Linked DNA regions of Homo sapiens: region 1 is linked to region 2. The links come from fine-mapping of genetic effects on gene expression. A gene starts in region 2. The other region holds a variant in brackets. All regions are shown on one strand. Distances are from middle to middle.

The links. PIP is the estimated chance that this variant, and not a neighbour inherited with it, causes the effect.
Region 1: its variant is the best candidate, but not a certain one, in a credible set for the expression of ZC3H13 in sigmoid colon (GTEx, PIP 0.61).

The regions. Positions count from the first base shown.
Region 1 is chr13:45,964,546-45,979,974 of GRCh38, reverse strand. ZC3H13 (zinc finger CCCH-type containing 13) reads left to right here. Exons shown (of 19, transcript NM_001330564.2): 11 at 1-162; 12 at 4,137-4,692; 13 at 9,510-9,613; 14 at 10,004-11,227; 15 at 11,947-12,471; 16 at 14,543-14,695. Among named protein-coding and RNA genes, the nearest start is that of ZC3H13, 80 kb to the left of the region's middle. The variant A/G (reference allele first, on the strand shown) is at 7,927.
Region 2 is chr13:46,042,971-46,057,281 of GRCh38, reverse strand. ZC3H13 (zinc finger CCCH-type containing 13) reads left to right here and starts at 4,536. Exons shown (of 19, transcript NM_001330564.2): 1 at 4,536-4,878; 2 at 11,766-11,891; 3 at 12,218-12,327. The coding sequence starts at 11,775. CPB2 (carboxypeptidase B2) reads left to right here. Exons shown (of 11, transcript NM_001872.5): 10 at 1,433-1,520; 11 at 3,484-4,096. The coding sequence ends at 3,668. It overlaps CPB2-AS1 (CPB2 antisense RNA 1), which reads right to left and starts at 4,434. Exons shown (of 3, transcript NR_046227.1): 1 at 4,317-4,434. RefSeq lists enhancers at 4,371-4,570, 4,581-4,750, 4,280-4,815, 4,816-5,352.

The DNA of each region.
Region 1 (15,429 bases), 78 kb after region 2:
ATAGTCACAGTAGTAATAGCAACTATCATGACAGCTGGGAAACTCGAAGTAGCTATCCTGAAAGAGATAGATATCCTGAAAGAGACAACAGAGATCAAGCAAGGGATTCTTCCTTTGAGAGAAGACATGGAGAGCGAGACCGTCGTGACAACAGAGAGAGAGGTTTGTCAAACAGAATTTTATTAAATAGTGAACAATATCAATTGGGCGAATTGTTTTTTCAAACAGTTACCAATTTACTTTTTAATATAAAATATACTTTAAGGCTTGTGCTCGATGACACATTTGAAACTATTATATATACTCATATAATCTTTGTTCACATGGTTTAGGAGGGATTATGTCAATAGCTAGTGACCAGTACCTACTGGCAACAAAGTGCAAAAACTTGGGTGCCCTACTGTGTGTTTCTCATCTTACCCAAATAGCTTACAAACCTTTAAAGAATGTAGATGGTTGGGTTCTATTCCAGGCAATTCTGATTCAAGAAATACCTAAACCTTTACATCTGAGTATCCTGTCTACTCACTCATTTGCTATGATCAATAGAATTTTATAAGGACTTCCAGAAAGGAACAGTAAAAAAAAACTGAATGATAGGGCTGGGGATTGTTTAGAGAAATATTTTATTTGTATTCTGTCCTGAGAAGATATGGTATTTGCTTTAGCTAATTTTACGTTCTTATATGTCTTAAGCTAAAACTTTTTCTGTTCATCTATCAGGTGATCTCTTAAATGAATTTTGAAGCAAGATTACTAGGAAGCACTTAAGAAGGGTTGTAAATACTTTCTTTGGCAAGCTTTTATTTCTGTACTTATTAGGGCCTTTAAACATTAAAAATTTTATGAAGGTCTTACTAACCTTGGCTGAAGTAAGGTTCACTATAATGCTGAGATTAATATAGCATGAAACTTGATGGCCCAGAGAATTGAATATTGATACTTTACTATGGGCTGAATCAAAGAGGTAATATTATATCTTGATTGGTTAGTAGTGGGAGAAGAATAAAGTTTCTAAGGCATCATCTACTTTTGGGAGCATAGATAGGATCAGAAGTAGGAGAATTGATTAGGTTGAGTTTATAAGGTAAGCCTAATGCATTTTGGTTAAAAGATGTGTAGAATTTCCTTAGTTACAGATAGGGCTGGAGTTTCTATGTTCTGTGTTGATATCTGAAATTTTTTCTTCCCTGGGACTTTTAGAACTGGTGATGCTTTTTTTTAAATTTCTTTTTTCCTTTTTTTCTATTTTCATATCCTTGCTCAGATTTTTCTCATCTCATGCCTGAATTCAATAGTAACATTTGGTTTCAATCTTATGGTTAGTTCAACCACATGTATTGATCTTCTACTAGGTGCCAAGAACTTTGATAGTTGCTTTACATATATTCTGACTTAGTCTTTACAATATCCTTGTAAGTGTAGGTATGATAAAATAATTCATGTTTTCACAGTTTTGGGGATTAGATCTAAGAGTAGTAAGATTACAATATTATAGAGAAGTAGGTTCCAGAGCTGGAATTCAAACTCAGGTCTTCTGACCAGAAGTTCAGTTCTCTATTTTAATTTTACTGTAACTACTTCAATAATTATGAGATGTATGATTGAAATAAAAATATATTTTGGAGGCTAATGAATATTTTACAAATATTTGTTGAGTACCCATGTCAGGCACTTTGCTAGGCACTTGAGGTACAATAATTTCTTGTCCTTGTAGAATTTAATGGGGAGAGGGAAGAACTCCCCACCCAAAAAAACAAAGTGTGATAAAATGCTACTACTGTATATAAAAGTTCTGTGAGAAGACAAAGGAGCAAACACAATTCTGAGCAATTCCAAGAAAGCTGCCTAAAGAAGTGACATCTGAATTAGGGCCTGAAGAATAAAAGGAAACTATAGAAGGAGCACTTTACAGGGAGAGGGTGCAGCATGTACAGACACCAGAACTGAAAGAAACATGTGCTTTGGAGTAGTAAGGAATTATGAGATTGGAGTCAGAGTATGCTATAATTGGCAAGGTAGAAAAGAAACCAGGGAAAAGGACTGATGAAAGACTATAGGCCAGGTAGTAAATGACCTAAGTTTAGCCTAGTCAGGCTAAAAAATTTGATTTTAATTGCCTTTCACTGCCTACAAGATAACTACTTTTAAACAGTTGGAAGAAATAATTTTCATCAAAAACATATTAAGGGTGTTGGGAAAGATTGAAAACAAGGATACCAATTAGTTAGACTGTTGATGACATAGGCATCTAAGAAGACCTGATCAAGGTCTGAGTTAATAACTATAGCTATGGGGACAGGAAAAGGAACAAAGAAATATTTTAGAAGTGAAGTTGATTGTACTTGGATATGATGAGGCTTAGACAACCCAGAGATTGTCAGCTTTAATGAATTGGTATGTCATTTATTAAAATAAGGAAATATGTAAGTAGAAGCACATCTTTGAATAACACATTTTGGGGGAAAGATAGGGGAAGATAATTTAGACATTTTAAAGTGATGTTCTTATATTCTTTCCATTTTCCTTTGAAGAAAGTAGCATTGATATTTTGGTTGGGAAAATACATCTCCCATAAAAGCATGTCTGAATAGTCTATTTGCTGATATTGCTGTAATTAGAAATTTAAAGTATGATTTGCTATAAGTTAATGGTATTGAATTTGTTTCAGGTTATCTTGTAATGATTATGATGTTGGTATGACTCCTCCAAACCAGGAATTCAGACAATACAAAAGATGGGTAGATAGCATTCTAGGAATCCAAAGTATGGTACAGAAGAACCACTTTAAGTTGGTTTCAGCAAAAGTGAAAGGGTTTAAGAAAACTGACTTCTAATGCATCTACCATCTCTGTGACATTGGGAAGACAACTCTGGACCATAATTTCTGTTTTTAAATAGAAAGGGGGAGAAGCAACTGTGTAGGATTTCATTTTGATTCAGCTTTAAAATGCTATGATCATTTGTATCTGGGTCTATAACCTCTAAAATAGTAAAGATAAGATAATTCTTGTCTTTTCAATCAGTGATTAGGAAGGGAAATCCAGAATACTGTATTGAACCCTTCCTAGAAACATCCTAAAATTGTTCTGCTTAATGAGTTGATGTTAGATGTTCCACTTACCAACCTGTTGGCCTGATTATAATATGATCTTTATCAAAAACCAGTAGATATATAGTATGTAAATGGAAACATCACAGTATCCTAGATCAGACCGCAGTAGTTGCTTTCAAAAATGGCTGTCTCTTTGAAAAAGTTCATGCCATCCTCTTAAACGTTTTTTTATCCCAGACTAATTTTCTGCTCAACTGGGTATTTGGGCAGCATGCATTCATTTACTCTGTGTTTATGTGATTTGTGTGTACATGGAAAAAATTTATATAAAATGTGATGAGGTTATCAGTTAACATTTTAAGAAAACAGCTCTTCATCTGAGTAATCATTTATGTAATTAAAGCTAATTTATTAGTAATTGGTTATTAATTACAAATATATATCACTAATATGAAACACTTTTTACATTTATTTCAAGATTGCTAGACATCAGTACCCTTAATATTACAGTTCATGTTATATTGCAGCAACAAATTCTGACATATGTTTTGTTCTACTATATTTTCCTCACATAATAGCTGCACTTTGATGTGTATATATTTTGGCCTGAAATTAGAGGTGTGACTTACGAGGGAAATTTTTTTTTTCCTTCAGCTCCTATGTTCTACACCTCCTGCTGCCCCTATCCTTTGCCACCAGTGTTCTCAGGTCCTGCTGGGGGGACAGAGAAGATCAGAGGTGAAGGGTAGAGATGGCAGAAAGTGGGGTTGGAGCAGTGGGCTGGAGGTAGGGTAGGGAGCATGCAGAGAAAGATCAAAGATTGATCAGTGGGAGGGGGGAAGGGGGTTGACGGGGAGCAGGAAACATGGTCGTTAGAGGGCAAATAAAAATTATCTTTAAAAAATTTAAGGTCTAGGGGCGATTGTTACTTGGATATTAAGTTAAAATTAAATATGCTACTTGGTTTGTAATTTGTTGCCAGTGTGACCCTATCACAGATAAAATTTAAGATTTACCATGCTGTCTTACCAATAGGTTATCTGTCAAATTAATCACTGACAAAACTTGATTTTCATTGTAGATCAAAGACCAAGCTCACCAATTCGACATCAGGGAAGGAATGACGAGCTTGAGCGTGATGAAAGAAGAGAGGAACGAAGAGTAGACAGAGTGGATGATAGGAGAGATGAAAGGGCTAGAGAGAGAGATCGGGAACGAGAACGAGACAGGGAGCGGGAGAGAGAGAGGGAACGTGAACGGGATCGGGAAAGAGAAAAAGAGAGAGAACTAGAAAGAGAGCGTGCTAGGGAACGGGAGAGAGAAAGAGAAAAAGAGAGAGATCGTGAAAGGGATAGAGACCGAGACCACGATCGAGAGCGGGAAAGAGAGAGGGAACGAGACAGGGAAAAAGAACGGGAACGAGAAAGAGAAGAGAGAGAGAGGGAGAGAGAGCGAGAACGGGAGAGAGAGCGAGAGCGAGAACGGGAACGAGAAAGAGCGAGAGAAAGGGATAAAGAACGAGAACGCCAAAGGGATTGGGAAGACAAAGACAAAGGACGAGATGACCGCAGAGAAAAGCGAGAAGAGATCCGAGAAGATAGGAATCCAAGAGATGGACATGATGAAAGAAAATCAAAGTAAGAATAATTATCAGTTATTAATAACATTTTACATTTCAGGAAAGAATTCAAAGTTTCATTTAATGCTTTTCAATATACTCTTAATTTCCTGTTAATTTTTTTTCTCTGTATATTTTCCTGTTTTTCAAATTTAGTATATGTATCGGTGTTTAAAGTTTTTTTACCCAGCACTTTGGGAGGCCGAGGCAGGCAGATTCCTTCAGGCCAGGAGTTTGAGACCAGCCTGGGCAACATGGCAAAACTCCATCTCTACAGAAAATACAAAAATTAGCCGGACGTGGTGGCACGTGCCTGTATCCCAGCTACTTGGGAGGCTGAGATGGGAGGATTGTTTGAACCTGAGAGGCAGAGGTTGCAGTGAGCCAAGATTATGTCATTGCACTCCAGCCTGGGTCGAGACCTTGTCTCAGGAAAAAAAAAAAAAGTTTTTTCAGTTGTCTAGAAAAAATAATTTTTAAATTAAGACAGGAATCAGTGAACTTGTATCCCATCACATCCCCTAGACTAGTCACCAAGGGATATCACCTGTGCCATTCTGATGATCCTTCATGACTTTTATGTGCTTGTAATTATGGAGTCACTACCCCCAGGCTACAGGAAGCATTCACAATGTCTTGGAACTGAGGGAATCCTTGTAATCACTGCATGGTTCGAAGATGAGAGAAAAGGAAGTGTCTTCTCTTGTGCTGTGGAGTAGTTCTTTGGGGTCAAAAAATGTGTTCTTGGCATCTGATATACCTAAGGGCATTCTCCCACCTCACCCCCTTTTAACCAGAAAAGAACTTATTGCTCAAATATCTAGGAAGTTGGAGATTAGCTTTTGCTTGTTCTGATGTGGCTATATCCAGATTCTCAAACAAAGCATTAGCAGTTTCCATCTCTCCAGTTTCCCTCTGTATTAATTTCAGTCTCAGAAAGGTTTTCTCCATATGATGGCTAAGATGGCCCCAGAGTTGTCCCTGTCAGCTTAGCAGTCCTCTCTGAGTTGGGGCTCTCATTAGTTGGTGAGGAGACAGTTATTGACTAAGCTGATCACAGTGTTCATGAGAATTCTAGACTCAGATTGGTCAATTTTGAAGTTCTGTGGGCACAAAACCAAACTTACTAGAGTTAACTACTTTTTTGCCTCCAACTGGGATAAACACTGTGGTTTACCTTGCCAAAACATACTGAGAAAATAATTTATGTATCTTCAATTTTCTTGCTCTTACCTCCAACTCATTTGCCACAGGGCGAATACAGGGTCCCTGCTTTAGGCTTTTTTCATCCTCACTATTGTGGATTATGGTTAGGGCCAAACAACACAGCACAGAAGTAGAACTTTCTTCCCTTAGGTCTTGGCTGTTCTTTAATCTACAGCCATGGTTTTCTGTAGTACACTCCTTGGATTACTTTCCTGCTTCCCTCTCCTTACATTTTGAAAAATCTTACCTGAACATAAACTTCAGAGATACCTTTTTTAACACATGGAGGCACAGGTACATATTCCCACCCTCCCCACCCGCTACTTTTCTGACCTCTTTATTTTCTAAGATTAAAATTCTGAAATCTTTGTTATTTATCTTTTATTCAGTCCTCTGCTTTCATTAGTACAGATTGAGCATCCCAAATCCAAAAATTCAGAATTTGAAATGCTCCAAAATCTAATGTTTTTTAAACACTGACATGGCACTCAGAGGAAATGCTCATTGGAACATTTCAGATTTTCACATGAAGGATGCACAACCAGTAAGTACAATGCAAATATTCAAAACCTAAAGCATTTCATGGATAAGGGATACGCAACCTGTATTTTTTTCATGCTTCTGATATCTGCTTATAATAGCAAAAGTTTTTCTGGTTTTTCATGGTTAGACAATCTAAGAGTTGACAATGACCCCAGAAATTTAGAAGTTGAATAACTCTATAACAGAAACTAATTACATGAGATTAATATCTTAATCTTTCATTAACTGTATTGTCATCTCAGTAGTTCAATTTATCCAGCACTTTTTTTAACTGCTCTTATGTAGAACGTTTGCCTAATTGCTGTATTTATTTTACTCTAATTGTGTTTATTTAGGTATTTCCTTGAAATAACTTTTTCTCATGTTTTAAATTTTCACTTTATTCCAGTCTGTCAGTTATCTCTTGATATATAACACATCACCACATAAGTTAGTAGCTTAAAACAACAACCATTTATTTGCTCATGATTCTGTGGATTGGCAGTTTTGCCTGGGCTCAATAGAGTGGTTGTTCTGTTGGTCTCACTTGGAGTAACTCCTGTATCAACATTACATCTGACAATGCAGCTGGGCCTGGAGGCCCAGGATTGTCTCATTCATGTGTCTGGCAATTAGGGCATCTTGTTTCTCCTCCACTTGACCCCCTGGCCTTCAGTAGTCTAAACTCTGCTTTGCATGTAATGGTAGAAACAACAAGAGGGCAGAAGCTGAAGCAGCAAGGCCTCCTGAATCCTCTTCACATTTGCACAGTGTCACTTTCACCACATTCTCTTGTCATAGCAAGTCATTAGATATGAAAAATGGGGAAATAGGCCAGTTATTGATGGGAGAGGAGCTTTGGATAAAGTAGTACACAAGCTTGGGCCTGTGAGTTGTCATATTACACCTGGGGCCTTCTCCACATGGTTGTTCATCTATATAAAGGAGCTGTCTATGATATACATGTGCTGGTATGTTTTTGTTTTATTTTTATTTCAATAGCTTTTAGGGTACAAGAGGTTTTTGGTTACCTGGATGAATTCAGAGATTTTAGTGCACCTGTCACCTGAGTAGTCCACATTGTACCAAACATGTACGTTTTTATCCCTCACTCCCCTTCCACCCTCCCCCTTCTGAGTCTCCAAAGCCCATTATATCACTCTGTATGCCTTTGCATACTCATAGCTTAGCTCTCACTTACAGGTGAGAACAAGTTGCTGCAAAAGACATTATTTTTTTCCTTTTTATGGCTGAGTAGTAGTCCATGGTTTCATGGTGTATATATACCACATTTTCTTTATCCACCCATTGGCCAATGGGCACTTAGGTTGGTTCTATATCTTTACAGTTGTGAATTTTGCTGCTATAAACATATATGTGCATGTTTTTTTTTTTCATATAATGACTTCTTTTCCTTTGGGTAGATACCCAGTAGTGGGATTGCTGGATCAAATATCTCCTTTTAGTTCTTTAGGGACTCTCCATACTGTTTTTCATAGAGGTTGTACTTATTTACATACCCACC[A/G]GCAGTGAATAAGCATTCCCTTTTCACCATGTCTATGCTAACATCTCCTGTTTTTTTTACTTTTTAATGGCCATTTTTGTAGGAGTAAGGTGGCATCTCATTGTGGTTTTTAATTTGTATTTCCCTGATGATTAGTGATTTTGAGCATTTTTTCATACGTTTGTTGGCTGTTTGTATGTCTTCTTTTGAGAAATGTCTATTCGTGTCCTTTATCCACTTTTTGATGGGATTATTTATGTTTTTCTTGCTGATTTATTTGAGTTTCTTATAGATTCTGGATACTAGTCCTTTGTTGGATACATAGTTTGCAAACATTTTCTCCCATTCTATGGGTTGTCTTTGTTATTTATTTTGCTGTGCAGAAGCTTTTTAGTTTAATTAGGTTCCATTTATTTATTTTTGGTTTCGTTGCGTTTGCTTTTAGAATCTTGGCCATGAAGTCTTTGCCTAGGCCAGTGTCCAAAAGAGTTTTCCCAGTGTTAATTTCTAGAATTTTAATGGTTTCAGGTTTTAGATTTAAGTCTTTGATCCTTCTTGAGCTGATTTTTGTTTGAGCTGAGAGGGATCCGGTTTCATTCTTTTACATGTGACTTGCCAATTTTCCCACCACCATTTAGTAAATAGAGTGTCCTTTCCCCAGTTATGTTTTGTATGCTTTTGCTGAAGATCATTTGGCTTTATTTCTGGGTTTTCTATTCTGTTCCATTGGTCCATGTATACAATATGTTTCTTAACTTTTGACCATAGTATTTATAAACAAACAATGTTAGTGAAAAAACAGGTAGTCAAATTTTAATGAAAATGGGGGAAAACACTAGAATAATTTAAGTACCCAAGAGATATAAAACGCTACTCATTTAAAGCTCAACTAAGGAACAAAAAATATAATGAACGTATGAATTATTTTATTAATTTGTCAGCAAGAAAGTGATTTCCATGAAGGGGAAAGGAACTAATTTTATGGTGTACCCACAACATATTTGGCACTGGGTTTATGACATAACTAATTTATTCCTTACTGCAATTTTATGAAATGGACTCTCATTTCCCACCCATTCAGCCCCACCCACCATTTTCAGATGAGAAACTAAGGTTCAGTGACTTCAAGGAACTTACTTAAGGCTGCGTAATAACTAATGTAGTTATAAGTTGAACTCATAGCTTTTTTACTTCAAAGCCAATATTAGGTTTTCTCATTCAGCTCTGCAGCATAAGGCATTTTTATATCATAAGAATGCAAAATTGCTGAATGTTTATATCAGAGGGTACATTAATATATTGGTTTCTGTGCTGCATGTTACCACCTTACAGTATTTAAATCTGGCAATTTTCACTTGAGTTATTCTACATGTATAATGAAGAAGAAGAAGAAATGTTGTGTATTTTAAGTTCACAATTCTTAGCAAATGAAGTAAAGAATTTGTATTAAAGACACTGAATATCCTTTGTATGATACACTCTGGCAATATTGCTTTCCTACAATTATATGTTCCAGTTATAGTAAAGAGATACTAGTAAAAACAAAAAAATCTCTTTTTTTGCCCCCTAGAATTTTATAAATTGTGTTTGCTTGTCCAATTTAGGAAGCGCTATAGAAATGAAGGGAGTCCCAGCCCTAGACAGTCCCCGAAGCGCCGGCGTGAACATTCTCCGGACAGTGATGCCTACAACAGTGGAGATGATAAAAGTAAGCAGACTCTGTTTTCTGTCTCTCTATATTCATATTCATTTGTAACCATGAAACCATCCTTTCATACTAGTAGGAACTGATGAATTAAGATTTTTAAAAAGTTGTCTTGCTTTGCTGCCTCTAAATATCTCCTTTTGTGACTAAAGTATGTGTTAGAGTACTGTCATTTTCTACTATTTATAGTAAAGCCATATTTTTATTTTTACTAAAATTATTGTCATTTTAAAAGTTTTTAAATGATCTTGATCTCTTGATCTCATGATCCACCTGCCTCGGCCTCCCAAAGTCCTGGGATTACAGGTGTGAGGAGAAATTATTATAATCTATATGTACCATGCAGTGGTTACTAACCTGGTGAGAGTGTGATTGCTTTTATCTTTTATATAGATGAAAAACACAGACTCTTGAGCCAAGTTGTACGACCTCAAGAATCTCGTTCTCTTAGTCCCTCGCACCTCACAGAAGACAGACAGGGTAGATGGAAAGAGGAGGATCGTAAACCAGAAAGGAAAGAGAGTTCAAGGCGCTACGAAGAACAGGAACTCAAGGAGAAAGTTTCTTCTGTAGATAAACAGAGAGAACAGACAGAAATCCTGGAAAGCTCAAGAATGCGTGCACAGGACATTATAGGACACCACCAGTCTGAAGATCGAGAGACATCTGATCGAGCTCATGATGAAAACAAGAAGAAAGCAAAAATTCAAAAGAAACCAATTAAGAAAAAGAAAGAGGATGATGTTGGAATAGAGAGGGGTAACATAGAGACAACATCTGAAGATGGTCAAGTATTTTCACCAAAAAAAGGACAGAAAAAGAAAAGCATTGAAAAAAAACGTAAAAAATCCAAAGGTGATTCTGATATTTCTGATGAAGAAGCAGCCCAGCAAAGTAAGAAGAAAAGAGGCCCACGGACTCCCCCTATAACAACTAAAGAGGAATTGGTTGAAATGTGCAATGGTAAGAATGGTATTCTAGAGGACTCCCAGAAAAAAGAAGATACAGCATTCAGTGACTGGTCTGATGAGGATGTCCCTGACCGTACAGAGGTGACAGAAGCAGAGCATACTGCCACCGCCACGACTCCTGGTAGTACCCCTTCTCCTCTATCTTCTCTTCTTCCTCCTCCACCGCCTGTGGCTACTGCCACTGCTACAACTGTGCCTGCAACTCTTGCTGCCACTACTGCTGCTGCCGCCACCTCTTTCAGCACATCTGCCATCACTATTTCCACCTCTGCCACCCCCACCAATACCACCAATAATACTTTTGCCAATGAAGACTCACACAGAAAATGCCACAGAACACGAGTAGAAAAAGTAGAGACGCCTCACGTGACTATAGAAGATGCACAGCATCGCAAGCCTATGGATCAAAAGAGGAGCAGCAGCCTCGGGAGCAATCGGAGTAACCGTAGTCATACGTCTGGTCGTCTTCGCTCCCCATCCAATGATTCAGCCCATCGAAGTGGAGATGACCAAAGTGGTCGAAAGAGAGTACTGCACAGTGGCTCAAGAGATAGAGAAAAAACAAAAAGCCTGGAAATCACAGGAGAGAGAAAATCTAGGATTGATCAGTTAAAGCGTGGAGAACCCAGTCGAAGTACTTCTTCAGGTAATAAAATTGAATTGTGATCTAGTCACTGTTTCCTAGGTTAGTATATTTTATACACATTTTAATTCTAAAGTAATGCTAAATTGGTTACTTTACATGCTGCCTTAAATTTTATGCAACTTTTTAAAGAAAAGTTTAGCTGCCCTATCAAAATGTTACCTGTTATCACATTAATACCAACATTATAATAGAAATACATACAGTAGTGTTAATCAGTTTAATATCAGGATTTTAGTAGTATGTCTTGGTGGAAGGGTTTATGTGTTCAAGTCCCTTATTGATGCCTATGATTTTAACCTTCCTGCTATTCTTCATGCAGTCAAGGCTGCCTCTTTTGACCACAGAAAATAAGATAGGGGAGTAGGAGGAGATCAAATAATGGAGTGATTAGTTCTATTAATGCCTAATCATTTTATGTACTTCTTGGAAGATATTTTATGGTTATAGTGGAAATAGACAAGGAAACTTTTTTTTTTATTTATTAGAACTTTGAGAGAGGAATTTTTCTTAAAATGATTTATATATTTGGATATTTATAGAGAGAAATGTATATGTAGAATATAGAAATATATAGAACATATAGAGACAATATGGAACATAGAAAGTTACATAGAATATGGAAAAAGGTAAATTATGTTTTAAAGGACCTTGAAATGAAGCATTTTGTTTCTATTTTATCATGTGCTAATAACTCTTTATATATGGTATATTTATTTTAGATCGCCAGGATTCAAGAAGCCATAGTTCAAGAAGAAGTTCTCCAGAGTCAGATCGACAGGTCCATTCAAGATCTGGGTCATTTGATAGCAGAGACAGGCTTCAAGAACGAGATCGATATGAACACGACAGAGAGCGCGAGAGAGAGAGGAGAGATACGAGGCAGAGAGAATGGGACCGAGATGCTGATAAAGATTGGCCACGCAACAGGGATCGAGATAGATTGCGAGAACGAGAACGAGAGAGAGAACGAGACAAAAGGAGAGACTTGGATAGGGAAAGAGAGAGACTAATTTCTGATTCTGTTGAAAGGGACAGGGACAGAGACAGAGACAGAACTTTTGAGAGTTCTCAAATAGAGTCTGTGAAACGCTGTGAAGCAAAACTGGAAGGTGAACATGAAAGGGATCTAGAAAGCACTTCCCGAGACTCTCTAGCCTTGGATAAAGAGAGAATGGATAAAGATCTGGGATCTGTGCAGGGATTTGAAGAAACAAATAAATCCGAGAGAACTGAGAGTCTGGAAGGTGAGTGCTACCTCTGTTGTCTGTGATACTGCTTTATTTCTTTTCAGATTTCGTGGGAAACAACTATTTTCTTTTGAAAGGGCACCCACTAATGGGCAAATTGACTCCATTCTCCATTCTTCTATAGAGGAAGTAGATTTCAGAAGGAAAAGGCCTGTAAGATAGAGATATATATATTTTTTTAATGTGGTCCCCTTAGCAGTACCATTAAGGCAGATTTGGTTCACATAAACCTAAATGAAATAAAAGATTGTTTAGATGCAGTGTGTATAGATGTTGAAGAATAACCATCACATCCTTTTCTTAGATGTTAAAAAAATAAGATTACAAAAATTGAAATGACTTCTTAGTTCAGAGAGGGATTCAAATAATTATTAGTGAATCCCTATTTTCTAGGGCAGTTGAGAACAAATATATGAAACAATAACACTACCTAAAACTGTATTTAATGTAGGATTGACTAGAATCCCACTGGTACTCCCTAGTCCTAGAATAGGAATGCTAAGTCCGCATCAACTCAGAGCCAGCCTCAGCTATGTGAAACCTCACTCTCCATGCTTCTGTTCTTTACCCTTCAGCCCCCATTTACTAGACAAGCTGACTCATGCCTTTCCATTCTCTGCCCTTCTTTGTACCCACTCATACCATTTCCTGATAGACCTTTTTCTTTTATCTCATCTTTCTTACTCAAAATTCAAGTCCCAATTTATACATTATTTTCTCGATGAAGCCTTCTCTGCTCGAGGCACTTACTGTTTCAAATTCATCTCTTCACATTACATTTTCATCTCAATTTTGAGTATAAATAGCATCAAATCATAAAGCATGGTTCTGATGGAGGTACAACCCTGGGATATAATTGAATATAATTGAATTAATCATTATAATAGCTCTCTTGTGATTGGAGTCAGTATCCCTCATCTCTAAAATATATAATTTGCTGGTTATGATCACAGATAATATAGAATAGAAATGTATAGGTGAATCACTTGCTATGTGATGTAAAGTTTTTACTCAAAGTAGGAAAATGAGTTGGATCAACTTGAAAAGTTGAAAATCCTATTATGTGCATTTATGTTTAGATGTATGTTTATATGACAAAGTTACTAAAATTGGTTACATTAGAAGTGACTTAGTGAGGATATGGGGAGATTATTATAGAATTTAATAACATGGAAAATCACTAGAATGACTAGAAACATCTCATAACTTCTTATATTTTATTTGCTGCAAATTCATACCCATAAAGCATATGGTTACATTTTGAAACTTAGTATTGTAGATTCAGTGAAATGTATGGTTAGCTAGTGATTGTAAACGTTAAGTGTATTCTGTAATTTTAGGATTAAGTTCACAACTAACTCACCAAGAGACAAAGTTTAGCATAGGTGGTTGAAAAAAGTTGGTAAAATAAAAAAATAGAACATACACTAGTGGAACTAACAAAGTTATTTTTAATTGTATTAAAGCATTTTTCTAAAAATTGTGTTCATCAATGCAAGAAGATCATTGAGATAGGGAGGAGGAATTGAGATGTTGAGAGAGAATTAGACACTTCTTGTATTTTTACCTCACTGTTGTAAAGTTTATATAATGAGCTAAATAATATGAACTAAGATTTAAGCTTCGAGTAAATTTTTTAAATGTTTGCAAGTTTTTAAATTACTTTGTTTAGATAAATTGTGAAAATTTGAAAATATAACTTCAAAATCTTTTGAAGTTAGATTTGTCTGAGTTTTAAAGTTTTAAATTATCAAAAATAATACACAGTCAACATTAGTATGTTAGTAGTAGCTTTTATTTGTCATATTTTTATTGTGATCTTATAAGCTGTTCTCATAATTGCTGTCCAGATTGTATTCTTGCTATTAAAGTTTAATTTAACTAATTAAATTTTATTTTTGTTTTCTTTTGATATTATCAAGTATTTGAATAATTAAGAGATACAGTTTTCTGATGAAAAGATGTTTTTCACATTGTTATAATGTGTGTACCCTCTACCTTTTGGTTTGACTTAGTCATCCTCTCCCTTTAATGTTGTCTTTGATCTGAAATTAATTTGTCTATTTAGCAGGAGATGACGAGTCCAAGTTAGATGATGCACATTCATTAGGCTCTGGTGCTGGAGAAGGATACGAGCCAATCAGTGATGACGAACTAGATGAAATTCTGGCAGGTGATGCAGAAAAGAGGGAGGACCAACAGGATGAGGAGAAGATGCCAGGTAACTATTTGCAGAGGTGGTTAAACATGAAAATTATCTGTTATATGATATTAAAGTATTATTACCTTCTACTCTGTAAAAATTGACCTAAGACACTTAGAATTTTTCCTTTTACATTTTACTTAAGGTTGAAAGGCCAATAAAATGAAAATTATAGCCTATATGCCTACTCCTTTTTAAGTAGGCATTGTCTATGAATTAGAAAGGGCCTCATTTAAAATAGCAAAATTCTAAAGTTTATTTTCCAGAATTTAAGAATCATATTATATGACTTGGAATCTAAACAAATACTGATTGTCTAGCAATGTTCTTTCTACATGGTAGTTATATGGTACAAAGCTTCACAACTGTGGTGACACAAGCCAACTTTTTAAACAACCTGTCAAAAATTTACAGTAGTTGAAATTATATTTGAACACTATATACCTCTATCAATTTTCTAAATTTGGTAATTATTTTGACTTACAGTACTTTGTGTGTTGCTGGAACTCATTCCAGTGATTATACCATGAAGCAACACCCCTTAATATTCCTCTTGAATCATTCCAATTAGTGTCTGATTGTTACTAACAACTTTTTTAAATCACAGTGAGGATCTTTTCTTTGATTATATAAAATATGAAATTTTTATTTTAATTTGCTCTTATATTTTGCAATTTTTTCTACTGATGTAGAAGGTATGTATGATTGTTATCTTTGTTATTTTCTGGTATCAGGTATTTCTAAGTAGAACA
Region 2 (14,311 bases):
AGCTTTTTTCTTCTCAAGGGAAAACTGTTAAGGAAAGCACCTTTCAAAAATATTATCTTTGAAGAAATAAAAGGAAATTTATCATGATTTGGGAAGTAGAATTAGTCTAATTATGCTTTTTTTTTTTTGCATCACTGCCAGCACACATATATGTTGAGAGCCATTACGTGTAAAATACCTTGTCAATGGATGTTTAAAGAAGCATTAGGTAAAATCCTGCCCTTTAAGAGAATGTGTTATGGTTAGGGAGCTCAACCATTAGCAAATGTTACAAATAGTTGTACTCTAAGGCGACATAGAGTAACTACTAAATACGTGGCACAGACAGTACAACTCACTTCTAACTAGAATATCAAGGGATGGCTTCACTAATGCATTCAGAGGGAAATGCTGAGATAAGTGAGGAGATAAAGTAGTTACTGTCCTTGAGGAATTTACAATCTATTAAGGGGGGGAAAAACTACAAATAATAAAGTGCTGTTGATGTCAAAGATCAGCTACATTTTAGACAGGCATTGAAAGAGGATTTCTATAGGCAGACAGGGAAGGAAGGACCTTCCAAGCAAAGAAGTTGGTGTTCACCATAAGAGGATGCAAAAGTGGAGGGTGATAGCATCAGAAAGTAGATTAGGTTGGCTTCTGAAGGGGTGTGACTGTCAGATAAATTTGTATTTCATTATGTAGACAATGGGGTTACATTAAAACTTATTTTTTGAACAATGAGATGGCATAAAATAATATCCGCTGATAAATCTCTTGAGTTTTTCAAGAAGGTGACAGTGTATACCATGATGCTAGTTCCAATTTCCGAAAAGTTCCAGATAAGTGAGAACTTCAGAATAGATTTGACAAAATGAATATCAACAGACAAAATGAAGTCAAATGGGGGTCTTAGTTATTATCCTGCTCCATACCAGAGGCATAATCTTTTTTGATTTGATGAATCTATGGAAGTCATTAGACATTTTACACAAGAAGAAAATAGAAGTTGTGAGAAGGATAAGAAGTGAGTCATGCATGCATTAGGTGTTTGTATGTGTTTAGAAAGGTTGGATTTAAAGTTTGGTGATAATTTTGTTCAGAAATGGAGTACCTCTAAGCCTTTGAGATGTAGTTATACTTCATTTTCCATAATAAATGAGTTCCCAAAAAGGCATGTGATAATTTTTTTCTGCAAATTAATATATTTATTTATATAAATTATTTCAATATATTGAAATAGTTTATGTTTAAAGCCACCCAATTGTGATTGCCATAAAGTGCACATATTTTAAATTAATTTGTTTACCTTATTTATTTGCCTTTTAGATGAATCTAGATTTTCTACCTGTATACTTTGATTCAATTAATGTATGATTATTTTTTAGAAACTTCTACTTGTCATGTTTCAAAGCTGCACATTAACTGAAATTCTATATCTTGTTGCTTCCAGTCTCTAGTAGCCAGTGAAGCAGTTCGTGCTATTGAGAAAATTAGTAAAAATACCAGGTATACACATGGCCATGGCTCAGAAACCTTATGTAAGTATTTCTTCTTATGATCTTAGAGAACTTTGAGCTACTAAAGAAATCTGTGTGATCTGTTTTTCTTTGTGTATTTAATTTTTCTGAATTAAATAGGGTCACATGTAATACAACTGAATTGTAATAATTAGGAACAGAAGCATAATAGCTATGACAATGCTGAACAAAGCTATATTAATAAATGAGTTACTAAAAAGAAGCCAAAATCCTATTTAAGAAATCATATTTATCACAATCAAGTAGGAATTACAGAATTGGCATCATACTAGTTGAGTGAAGCAGAAAAGTTCATAAAACTTTTGCATGATTCCCAGGGCCACCATGGAAGGTTGTGCAGGTTGTACACTACACTAATCTAGGGCATGCCATTTGCATCAAGTGTTTTTTAGTGTTAGCCTGTTCCCAAGAGTATAGCTCATAACACATTACAGTTGATTGTCTTTAATATATATTACACACACAAAACTTGTGACAAACTCTTAACAAAAAGTTTTGATTAATTTTTGCTGAAAGATATTTAGTGAGTAACTCCTATCTACACACAGTGGGAGGACAGACTGATTTTGCCCTTTTGAAGTTTGAAGGGAGATGGGAAAAGAGGAGCATAAAATAAACCTGTAACCAGGCATCAGAAAACTACAGCCTGAAGGCCAAATCCAGGTTTTTCCTTTTTTTTTTTTTTTTAATGATTAGAAAAAAACAAAAAGAGGCCAGGTGCTGTGGCTCATGCCTGTAATACCAGCACTTTGGGAGGCTGAGGCAGGAGGATCACTTGAGGTCAGGAGTTCGAGACCAGACTGGCCAACATGGTGAAACCCTGTCTCTACTAAAAATACAAAAATTAGCTGGGCATGGTGGCAGGCGCCTGTAATGCCAGCTACTTGGTTGGCTAATGCATAAGAATTACTTGAACCTGGGAGGTGGGGGTGGCAATGAGCTGAGATTGTGCAACTGCACTCTAGCCTGGGTGACAGAGTGAGACTCCATCTCAAAAAAGGTCGAAACTGTATTTATCATGAACACTAAAATATGTACACATTTTAGTTAACATGCATTAAACTGTAACAAGTCTTCTGGCAATTGTAGCTTTCATGAGATGCTTCCCAAACTGTATTAGATAGATGCTAAAATTATAAATTAAAATTTTGGGTCAGACTTTGCCATAAACCTGGACTCAATTTAGCACCCCCCCAAAAAAAGTCAGATTATTCAATTAATGCGGTTGGAAAACCTAACAAGTTACCTAGAAAAAAATTAATTGGATTATTAACATGTCTTTCACCAAAGTAAATTCCAGGTACAGCATATATTTTCATATGAAAACCCTGCATAAACCAAGTTGAAATCTCAGTAAGGAGAAAAAATTCTTGTGAAAGGAGAAATGAATGAAAGGAGAAAAAAAGGTCTACATGCCAAACAAAGCTAATAACACTAATGTCGTTTTTATAAGCAATTGATAAAATGAACCAAGTAGACAAATGAGGAAGGACAATTGATAGGAAATATAAAGATAGCCAATAAATATGCCAAACAAATGTGCAACTCACTGATAATCAAAAAACATAAATTAAGACAGTTGGATATTATTTTTCGCCCATAAAATTATCAGAATTCATAATTCCTATTGATGGTATGGGAAGGGGAAATGGGCAAATTCATACCCTGCTTGTGGAAGTATAAATGAATTCAGTTCTTTTGACGTCCATTTGGGAACATGCCGTAATTGCAAAAAGTACAGAGCCTTAGACTAGCAAATCTATTCTAGGGAAGAATATTCTAAAGAGACAAAGAAGCAATTATGTATAAACAAGGGTACTCATTGTAAAGTTGTTTATATTAGTTAAAAACTGAAAAAAATCTAAAGGTATACAAACAAATAAACATTTAAATCAAACAATTCCCAGTTTGTAAATTAATTTGAAACGTCTGTATTTCAACAATTTCTTTCTTCTTCTTTTAGACCTAGCTCCTGGAGGTGGGGACGATTGGATCTATGATTTGGGCATCAAATATTCGTTTACAATTGAACTTCGAGATACGGGCACATACGGATTCTTGCTGCCGGAGCGTTACATCAAACCCACCTGTAGAGAAGCTTTTGCCGCTGTCTCTAAAATAGCTTGGCATGTCATTAGGAATGTTTAATGCCCCTGATTTTATCATTCTGCTTCCGTATTTTAATTTACTGATTCCAGCAAGACCAAATCATTGTATCAAATTATTTTTAAGTTTTATCCGTAGTTTTGATAAAAGATTTTCCTATTCCTTGGTTCTGTCAGAGAACCTAATAAGTGCTACTTTGCCATTAAGGCAGACTAGGGTTCATGTCTTTTTACCCTTTAAAAAAAATTGTAAAAGTCTAGTTACCTACTTTTTCTTTGATTTTCGACGTTTGACTAGCCATCTCAAGCAAGTTTCGACGTTTGACTAGCCATCTCAAGCAAGTTTAATCAATGATCATCTCACGCTGATCATTGGATCCTACTCAACAAAAGGAAGGGTGGTCAGAAGTACATTAAAGATTTCTGCTCCAAATTTTCAATAAATTTCTGCTTGTGCCTTTAGAAATACAACCATGCATTCCGTTTGCTCCACGGTAATTAGGCGATGGCCCAGAAAGGGGAGGGGTGTCAAAAACGACAAACATAGCCTCTCATTCCAGCTCAGCTGCTCAATAAACACTGTTGAACGAATGAATGAGTGGCTCTAGGTACTGTCAACAAATGCCGCATTTTGCGCATTTACAACAGCTGTTTATGGTAAGGAATTATGTAATAAAAAGAGAAAACTCACTTAAATTCACTTTTAATTGGGAATTTTAGTTCTCCCGGGCTCCCAGTTTCCTTTCCTAGGATCTCTCACAGAGCACAGATTCGATTTCCAAGTCCCGCCGCACTCTTACCGCTCGCATGGAACCTTACGCCTAGAGGGCGTGTCCACGAAGGGTGGTGTCTGCGCACTGACGACTAATCTGACGGCCGGAAGCTGCCTGGGTCTACAGAGGAACAGGGCAAACCTCTGACTTCCGGCGGCATTTTGAGGCGGTCCTCCTAGCGGCCTGGTAGTGTTTTTGTTGCCTTTTCTTAATCTACAATCTCTTCGTTATTTTTCTTCCTGCGACCCAGTTTCGCTTGACCCTGGAGAGGCGGCGGGCGGGTTGGTTCTGCTTCTCAGCCATCCCGGGGGCTCCTCGCTAGCCAAGAGCCGGTTCCCGGGAGCCGCGCGCGCATCGCTTTCTCCTCGTCGTCGTCCTCCTGGGTCCAGGCGCGGGGACAGAGTCGCCTCCCCCGCTCCTCGGAGCGGCGGCGGCGGTGGTGCCTCCGGACTGCACTTGCGAAGGGAGCTTGGGGAGGAAGTAAGCGTTCTGTGAATTGGTGTGGGTATCTGGGGAAGGCATTGAGCGGACCCGTAATGCGGAGGCCCGGGTTACCCCCCCCCGTCTTTGCTTGAGTCACTGGGATTTTGAGCTTTCCTTGAGCATCCCACCCTTAACTCTGCAATAGCCCCCTGTGCTCAGGCGTAATTTCTCACTCTGATTATGATTCTGGCATTTGTCTAAGGGCGATAAGTAGACTCAGACAATAGGCTGTACCCCTCGTTACCATTTGATGTAAGCACGGGAACCCTTGTATGGTGTTCGTATTTGTGTGCGATGGAAGGGTGCAGCAATTTGGGCTTAAATTTAGAATCTTCCTCTATACTCATTCCAGATCTGTTAGAGAAAAACATCTTACTTGTGATTGGTCTTGTTTTTTTTTTTTTCCCTCAGCAGTGATAACGATTTAGGTCCTGGGAATTGAGTGCTACTTTATCTTCACAAGCCTTAGGTAGGTAGTTTTGGCAACTGTCAGAAACGGGGGAAAGTGGAATAGAAAGAAGAGAGTCTGTTTGGCGGCATTATCTCTCTGTAATAGGCTAACGCAATTTATGTGGTTTGAAAATTATTTAGAGTTGATAATACTTGAATTATGTTGGTAAGATGTTGTTTGTGAAGGGTAGTCTTAAGGTATTTGGTTATACTATGGGGCTTTCAGGTAATTCGAACTACTTTGAAAATTATGGGAGTATGAAGTCTCTTAAGATTTTTGGATTTTTAAAGTAGTTTTAAAAATTTGGAAAACATCTTTACACCTCAAGTTTTCGAAGTCCGCGATACCGTTGGAGAATAAATACTTATGCAGTTCAGTCTATGGGTATATGGTGCCAGTTAGCGGGGTCTAGTTCTGTAACATTTGAAATTACTGGCTTTAGTACAATATATTGGAGCGTTTTGTGAATACAATCTATAGATTTTCAAATAATTTTTATTTTCTTAATGAACTATTTAGATTATAACAGATGACAGTTTCAACTAGAGACTAGCAAAGTTGATGCAAGCTTGTAACAATTGCGGCTTTAAAAATAGTTGCACTCTGAAACTAAGGCTTTCACTCTGTGCATCTGGTAGGATTCAGTTTTATCAAATGTATGCCTCTTACTGGCTTCCTGATTACTGGTCATTCTAAATGAACATTGCATATTTTGAGATTTGCAAGCTTATGTGATTTTCATATTTGTAATATGAATTTAACATACTAAAAATCCAGCAAGTGGATGGTATCTTAACATCTTTACAAATTATTAAAATTGTAATATCATCAGTATTTATAATATGCATTGGCATTTACATAGAGGAAACACATTGTTTAACTTAAATTTACTTAGAGAGTTGGTTTTCAGTGGATGATAGTCTTCCTCACCTCCTCATCTCTCCCAACTCCATCTCATATAGAGGTGGAGCTATTTCTCCAGCTGTTAGTAGTAGTTGAAGCATTAACTGCTGTTGATATAGAAAGAGTCTTTTATTCTTTTTTTTTTGTATTTTTGTATGATGCAGTTCTTTTTACTTCACTTTAGAGTAGCTACCAGCATGGGATGTTTTCTGTGCACAGTCTTTTTAACAAATTGTTTTTTCTGCATAGTACTGCAGTGTTGCTTTGCTAATTCCTATGTAGTCAGCTTAGTTCTGTCAGTTGTATTTGGAATTTAGTTTGGAATTGTTTTAGCATTAAATTTACGGAAGCAATCTGAAAGTTTGTTTTAGAAAGTTCTTTTTAAAAAATTCTCTCAAACTATGCATCAAATAAAGTTAATTTTTCTTTCTAAAAATATGAAGTATAAATGTGAAGATACCTTATTTTTAGTATCACCTTTTTAATCTTAGAAATTCAGAGTATAGGGATTTATCCTACTAGTTAGTACATTCATGTAGTTTTAATTGCCTAATTGTTTGAAATTTCCCTAATATTATGCCGCTACTCATCCGGATTAAAGTGTTATGCTTTCACTTATGCTTCCAGTAGATGAGACCTGGAAAAGATAATTAATTATGGATTGAAGTGAAGATACTAGAACGCATATGTGTTTATTGACAAGATTTTATTAATTGAGCTTCTGGAGTCATTATTCAAAAAGAGACCCTTTTGTATGCTTCTCCTTTCTCAGCCATAATTATAATGTGAACCTTCTGAGTACAGTGTTATTCTAAGTTTCTCGGGGCAAGGGAGCAGTTCCCATTTAAGACCCTCTTTTGTTGTGTCTTTATTAATAGACTCAAACTTTGTGTCCCGGATTTTCTTTTTCTTTTTCCATTTTCTTTTTTAATTGAAAAGAGATTATAAAGACTTCAGATATTCATTTGCTCTGCAAATGGAGAGGAGAAATAGGAAAATAACGAAATAGGCTTTCACTAGTGCCACTCTGTCTTTGATAATGCTCGTGTTTGAGAAAGACTTGATGATGTGGGTGGAAGTGTGATGGCAACTTAAACCAAATAATAATTTGAAAACAAAAATGGAGGAAAACCTTCATAGAAGAGTAAATTAGTAAGTTATTGGTATGACCTTGATTTCTATTCTCTATGATAGGAAAGACTTTAGTATTTACATTTTTATCTTATGGTTTCTAATTTTTCTCATATACTTTGAAGCATTTACTTGTCATGTTCAGCCTGTTCATACATAATTTGAAAAAGTTTCCCGCCCCGAAAATCTACATTTTAACTGTTGTGGTGTTCATTTTCCTTTACGGGCCCAAAGTTTTAAATAGGATTGAAAATTCTAATTGTCACATTAGTTGGTAACATTTAGTTTTAATATATGAAAAAGGAAATGTTTTTCTGCTGTATTGTAGATAGTGTGTATATTTTTAGATAAATGGGATTTTTAAAGTTATATATTGTGTTCTTTACAAGCATGAAGCATTTTGTTTATTCAAATTCATGAATGTCTCATTAGTAATATTTAAGTAACATTTTATTGTTGACTACTTGTGGAAGTTTTTACATGGATGATCAGAAGAATTTTTTCAGTTAGAAATCTTCAGTTTCTGCTTTTTTCTTTTTTCACCAGACGTTTTACACACACACATATATATATCACATTAAAGAACATTTTATTAAGAATATGTGTGTGTGTATTATTGTTGTCATTATTCTTGTTTTAAATGTTCAGTCCAGGACCTTGCTGTAACCCAGACCGCATACTCAGATGCTGTATTACTTTAGGACAAAGTATGGTACTCTTGGAGTCTGAGAAAAAGTAGAGTACATCTTTTTTTTTTTTTTTTTTGAGACGGAGTCTCCCTCTGTTGCCAGGTTGGAGTGCAGTGGCGCGATCTCGGCTCACTGCAACCTCCACCTCCCGGGTTCAAGCGATTCTCCTGCCTCAGCTTCCCGAGTAGCTGGGATTACAGGCGTGCACCGCCACACCCAGCTAATTTTTGTATTTTTAGTAGAGACGGGGTTTCACCATGTTGGCCAGGATGGTCTCGATCTGTTGGCCAGGATGGTCTCAATCTCTTGACCTCGTGATCCGCCTGCCTTGGCCTCCCAAAGTGCTGGGATTACAGGCGTGAGTCACTGCGCTTGGCCACATTTTTACTTAATTTCATTTCTTCGCTAAATTGGGAGACTCAGTACAGTAGTAGCTGCAAGTGAAATTCCTGGGATAATTACTATGTAGGTGAATCTTGAATAGTTCTTGATGTCACTGGTAAAAGCAATTTTGTCTCTGTGGAAAGAATATGGGCGTAGGGTGAGGGAGGTGAGGAGGTGGATCATTAGTCTTCACTTGATTGTCTTTCATAGCAAGTCCAACCCTTGAAATCTTCAAAGTTTTTTTTTTTTTTTTTTTTTTTTTGAGGCGGAGTCTCACTCTGTCACCCAGGCTGGAGTGCAGTGGCGCAATCTCGGCTCACTGCAAGCTCCGCCTCCCGGGTTCACGCCATTCTCCCGCCTCAGCCTCCCGAGTAGCTGGGACTACAGGCGCCTGCCACCACGCCCGGCTAATTTTGTTTTTGTATTTTTAGTAGAGACAGGGTTTCACCATGTTAGCCAGCATGGTCTCGATCTCCTGACTTCGTGATCCGCCCGCCTCGGCCTCCCAAAGTGCTGGGATTACAGGCGTGAGCCACCGCGCCCGGCGAAATCTTCAAAGTTTGCCTTAGGGAGTCTAGGATTGGAGAGAAGCTCTCAGACCAGCAAAGCAATAGGTCAAGGGAGGAGAGTAGTGCGAATCAGGCAACAGAGGACAGACCAGAAAAAGAAACTGTAGAGTTAATACCTGGAACCCTCAAAAAGTAAAAAGAAAGGAGATGATAGATGACCAATGTTTTAAGTATAATAAGTACGATAATAAATAGCCTGTCGTCCTAACTGGAAACCATTACCATTGAATTTTTTGAAGGAGACTGAGCTGGGAGTGGAGGCATGTTGGGGGTAGTAGAGATGTTGGGGGCAGAACTAACTCATTTCCAGTGACAGTGGAGGGAAAAATAAAAAATTAGTGTTAGTCCACTTGAGGCAGTGTGGTGGGATGGTTGTGCCTGTTTTCTAAGTTCTACATAACTAGCAAATAAGGAAATTTTGGAACCTATTCAATTTTGTTTATTAAGAAATGTTTTAAAAATTGAATTATTGGTTGAGGATTACTCTATATTTGTATATTAATGTAGCAATATATAATGAAACTTTATGTTTTTCTCAAACTTCTTATACATTGTGATACATTTACTTATTATTGAATCATGCTTGGATATATATTGTTAAAAAAGTTTTTCTCAAAGCTCTACATTTTCTAGATCTTTCTCAGCTCCACTTCTCTTAGCTTTCAGTTTTTTCGTGCTCAGTAAATCAAATAGACATAGGAAATTTTACCAGCTTCTCCTCCGTATGTTCACATTTCAGCTGAGAATGAGTCTAAGAAAAATTAAATCAAAGATTATCTTATAATGCTAACACCAGTATGTAGAATTGGTGTGTAGTTCCTTACTTGGAGAACAATTAATATTTAATTGATTTTGTGTTGCAGCAAATTATTGTTTATGTGATGCTCTCCACTGGTTCTTAAATTTATAATTACTGTGAAGTAATTCTGTTTTTAAAATCACTAAAAATTAATTGCTATTATATCAAAAGAATTATTACATTTTATATTGATAAAAATATAGATTTTCCAATTTAAAATCACCATATATTATTTCATATTTTCCTTCCTTGATGCACCATCTTTTATTTATCAAATGTTGTTCTTAGTCTTTGGATTCTTTTAAAAGTGTGACCTGAAGTACCTCATTGAACCAAACACTGTTTATAATTTTTTATTGCTGTTTCAATTAGGTACTACCACGATTTAATTTCCTTTAAAGTGATATGTCTTTACTTTGAAACCACATTAAAGATTTGTGATCTTTATAGAGACTAAATGAAACTTTTTTAGCTGCTGTGGTTCATTCTAGTAACTTTTGATGATTGATAAGATTTCAACTAATATTTAGTTTGTATAAAGCGGGATATAGTATGGTGTTTTTTTTCCTTCCCCTTATGAGGCAGTTTCTACCCTCTTCCCACAGTAGTGTATGCTCTGGATTGTATCTTGGTCTAGAATTTAATATTGTTTTCTAATGTCATAATATACTGTCATTATCTGATACTTGCAAATCTAGTTGAATTACCCAATTATGTCATTGGATTAGATTTTTACTATAGTTTCAGTTTTTGAATGTTTTATTTACATACATATATATATATAGAGAGAGTTTTTTTGTTTTTTTTGAGATGGAGTCTCGCTTTGTCGCCCAGGCTGGAGTGCGGTGGTGTGATCTCGGCTCACTGCAAGCTCTGCCTCCTGGGTTCATGCTATTCTCCTGCCTCAGCCTCCAGAGTAGCTGGGACTACAGGCGCCCGCCACCATGCCCAGCTAATTTTTTTTTTTTTTTTGTATTTTTAGTAGAGACGGAGTTTTGCCATGTTAGCCAGGATGGTCTCGATCTCCTGACCTCATGATCCGCCCGCCTCGGCCTCCCAAAGTGCTGGGATTACAGGCACGAGCCACTGTGCCTGGCCCTTAAAAAATATTTTTATGTTTACATCAAATCTAACAGAGCTTAAACGTAAAATAAAATAAAAATATTTTTACAATTTGCCTTTTTTGTTATTACTAATAATGGTAAAATAGTCTGATAATTACTTTTAACACCTTTGAATTTTATGTCAGTGTAGTATAGATTATAGAAACACCTCGACTTTTTCTAGTTCTACAGTCTGTCCTGTTTTGAAAGTTGTTTCTATCAACATTGAGTTTTGTTTTGTTTTGTTTTTGTGTTACTGGAAAATAAATATGCTTGATCAGATTGTTTTGACTTCTGTCAGGCAAAGAAAATACTAAAATATCATTCATTTTTCTCAACCTGATTTTTGGAACATAACTGCTGTTGTCCCTTAAACTTATGAAACATAATTTCTGCTATGAAAATTTTCACCCAATTTTATTTTTCCATTTTCTTTAGCATAACTCTTTTTCAGTTAACCAGTTGATGGTTAACAACTTTGAGTTACTAAATTTTGAAGCAATTTTTGTAAGTAACTTTTATAAAGTAAACATTTTGTACTGTATCTTCTGAGGTTGATTGTACTATGAAAACTTCACTGTGTGAGTAGGATCATATTCGTTCACTCTGCAGAAGAGGTACAATTCTAGCCAACAGATCTCACAGCTGTTATAAATTCACCAGTAAGGCATGTTTTAGAAGATATTATCTCTGTTTACCTGTGACCTCTCCTATGCTTTTTTTTTTTAATCTCCCAAGGAAAATCTCCTGTAATTTTACACTGTTACCTATAGTTTTATCTACTTGTAAGCTGTGGGCTCAGTTATTTAAAACTGAGGAATTTTACAGTTTTGCCTCTTTCTTTTTTGGTTGAAGTAGTACAAAATGTCAAAAATTAGAAGGAAGGTCACAGTGGAAAATACCAAGACTATATCTGATAGCACATCCCGAAGACCCAGTGTATTTGAGAGGCTTGGACCCAGCACTGGCAGTACAGCAGAGGTGAGTTGTCACTAGTATAGTCACAGGGGTTCTCTTAGAATTCTATTATTGAAATGCTTATTTGTATCATAAAGGTGAACAGGTTGTTTTATTGTAGGAATGTTTGTTCAGTAAATTTTTTAAAGTGTGTTTTATAAAAAGAAGTGAAAAGGGTGATAAGGTTTATGGGTTTTTCCATATTTTTTTCCTGAAGTTTTTATTATTTGGGGAGTAATATATCACAGGTTAGCTGGAATTTTGGTAGCATTTGTTTTAATTTTGTCCCGCTAGCATTTTTTTTTTCCAGAAATAAATATGAAATTTACATAGTAATATCTGTCTCTTAGACACAGTGCCGTAACTGGCTGAAGACTGGCAACTGCCTCTATGGAAACACATGTAGATTCGTACATGGCCCTTCACCTCGTGGTAAAGGTTATAGCAGCAATTATAGAAGGTAAACTGAGAACTTTGTATTGTTCATGTACTATTAGAAGATGGCTTTTGTAATTTATCTAGTATAAAAATCTGAAATACAACCATATATTTGGTCAGATTTTCTATATTGGTGGTAGTCTTACCAGTAATTGAAGATCGACAGGATCTTTTTGTTATTTTCAAGATTAATAAAATGTTTGCTTTCAAATTAACTTATTTGTTCATTATTTATTTGTTTTGACAGTAGATCTTTTTGTAGTATGTGTATGGCTTACTTTTTCCCCCCTAATTATGTATTAAATTGCTGCTTAAGACAGCAGAATTCCATGGTGTCTGAATTTCTTTTTAGTGAGGCTATTTTTAACTCTTAAAATAGTAAAATTCAAATAGGGTATAATTTTAGCTGTTTAAGATGTTCTGAATTCAAATTTTGTACAAATTCTATAGGTTAAAATGCATTTGCCAAATCCCTTAGCACAGTATGTTAATGAAAATATGTATTTATATGTGGATGAATATGCTCCATATTTCGAACATCGTTTTGCCTTTAATAAAGGCTTGGCTAGATTAAACTTGCTTAATAAAGACCTTTTATTTTTCTTTTGGTTCCCTCATGATGATTATTTTATGGTATTTAAAGATGTAATATACATAAAGTTTGTCACAAAAACAGTTTTAACTTGATTGGTAAAGAAATAATTTACCTAGATCCAAAATTGGTTACACTGATTGTTTTGGCTATAGCATAGCAACACTATAAAAACTGAACATTAGCAATTGGAATTTTTTTTTTTTTTTTTTAGTTGAATGATTTTTTTGGGGGTAGTGTATGGGTAGATTTTGTTTAGGAGAATTTAAAATTCAAACCCTCAACATTAGCCAACTTCTTTTTCACGTAAACATTGTACATTTTAGTTTATTTGTGATTCTGAATACTGTTTTATTTGTATTTAGATTGTCATTTGTCACTTCCGTTAATGTGGGAAGATTAGTGTTTATTGTATATGTGTGTTTACTTGTATATATACACGTAGATACATACCTGGTGAAACTATTTCGATACTTTTAATGTTTTGCTTTAATACTATACTTTTGATACATTTTAAAATTTATCTTTGAAATTTATTAGCTGACTCAGAATTTTTATTCAAGAAATCATTTTGAGAAAAATGGTCAGAGAAATTTGTCTAAAATGGGAAAAAGTAATGTCATTGCTAGACTTAGAATAAAGAATATTTATTATAATTTTGCTATTTTGTGTATGATTTTCCATCTGATAACTTCTTTCGTATTTGTGCATTTTTTTTGTCGGGAGGAAAAACATAGTTCATAATGCGAGTCAAAGATAAGAAAAGCAATGTATTTTACAGAATGCTTATTTATATGTTTATATACAAGACTTTTACATAATTAATTGAGAATTCGCTGTGTGTAAAACATTCATTCTGTTGGGTGCTGTTTAGGATAGAAACAAGTTCATACTAAAGTGTTTTATTATATAAAGGAAACCAGGGCACATAGGATTTACATGTACATCATTATAATTTAGAGCACTTAAGTACTGGTTCTTAGTAAGAGATTCCAGTTTCAAGTTTAGCTTTAACTGTTAAAACATTTAATATAAATCTATTACATGTGCATGTAAACATTAATGAGATCCTTTAAAGTGAATTAACTCAAATTATTTCTTTACTAACCTTATGATTTATATTCATAAAATCAAGGAACTGATTTGATTGCCCAATGACTGCTTGAAATAGATGTGAATATTTATGTGATTTGTTTATATCTTTTTTATATATAGTACTTTTTGGTAGTCAAAGAGGAACAGAGCATTCCTTAACTTCTTTTGCCCTGTTTTAAAGGTGTTGTAGAAATAGTCTTTAAAGGCAGTCTGTTTTCCATCTCTCCTTTGTTTTTTCCCACTGATAGTGAAAATAATTGCATAGCCATATACTGTCAAATTTCTAGTATAAATAATAAAGCCTTACCACTGTTGAGTA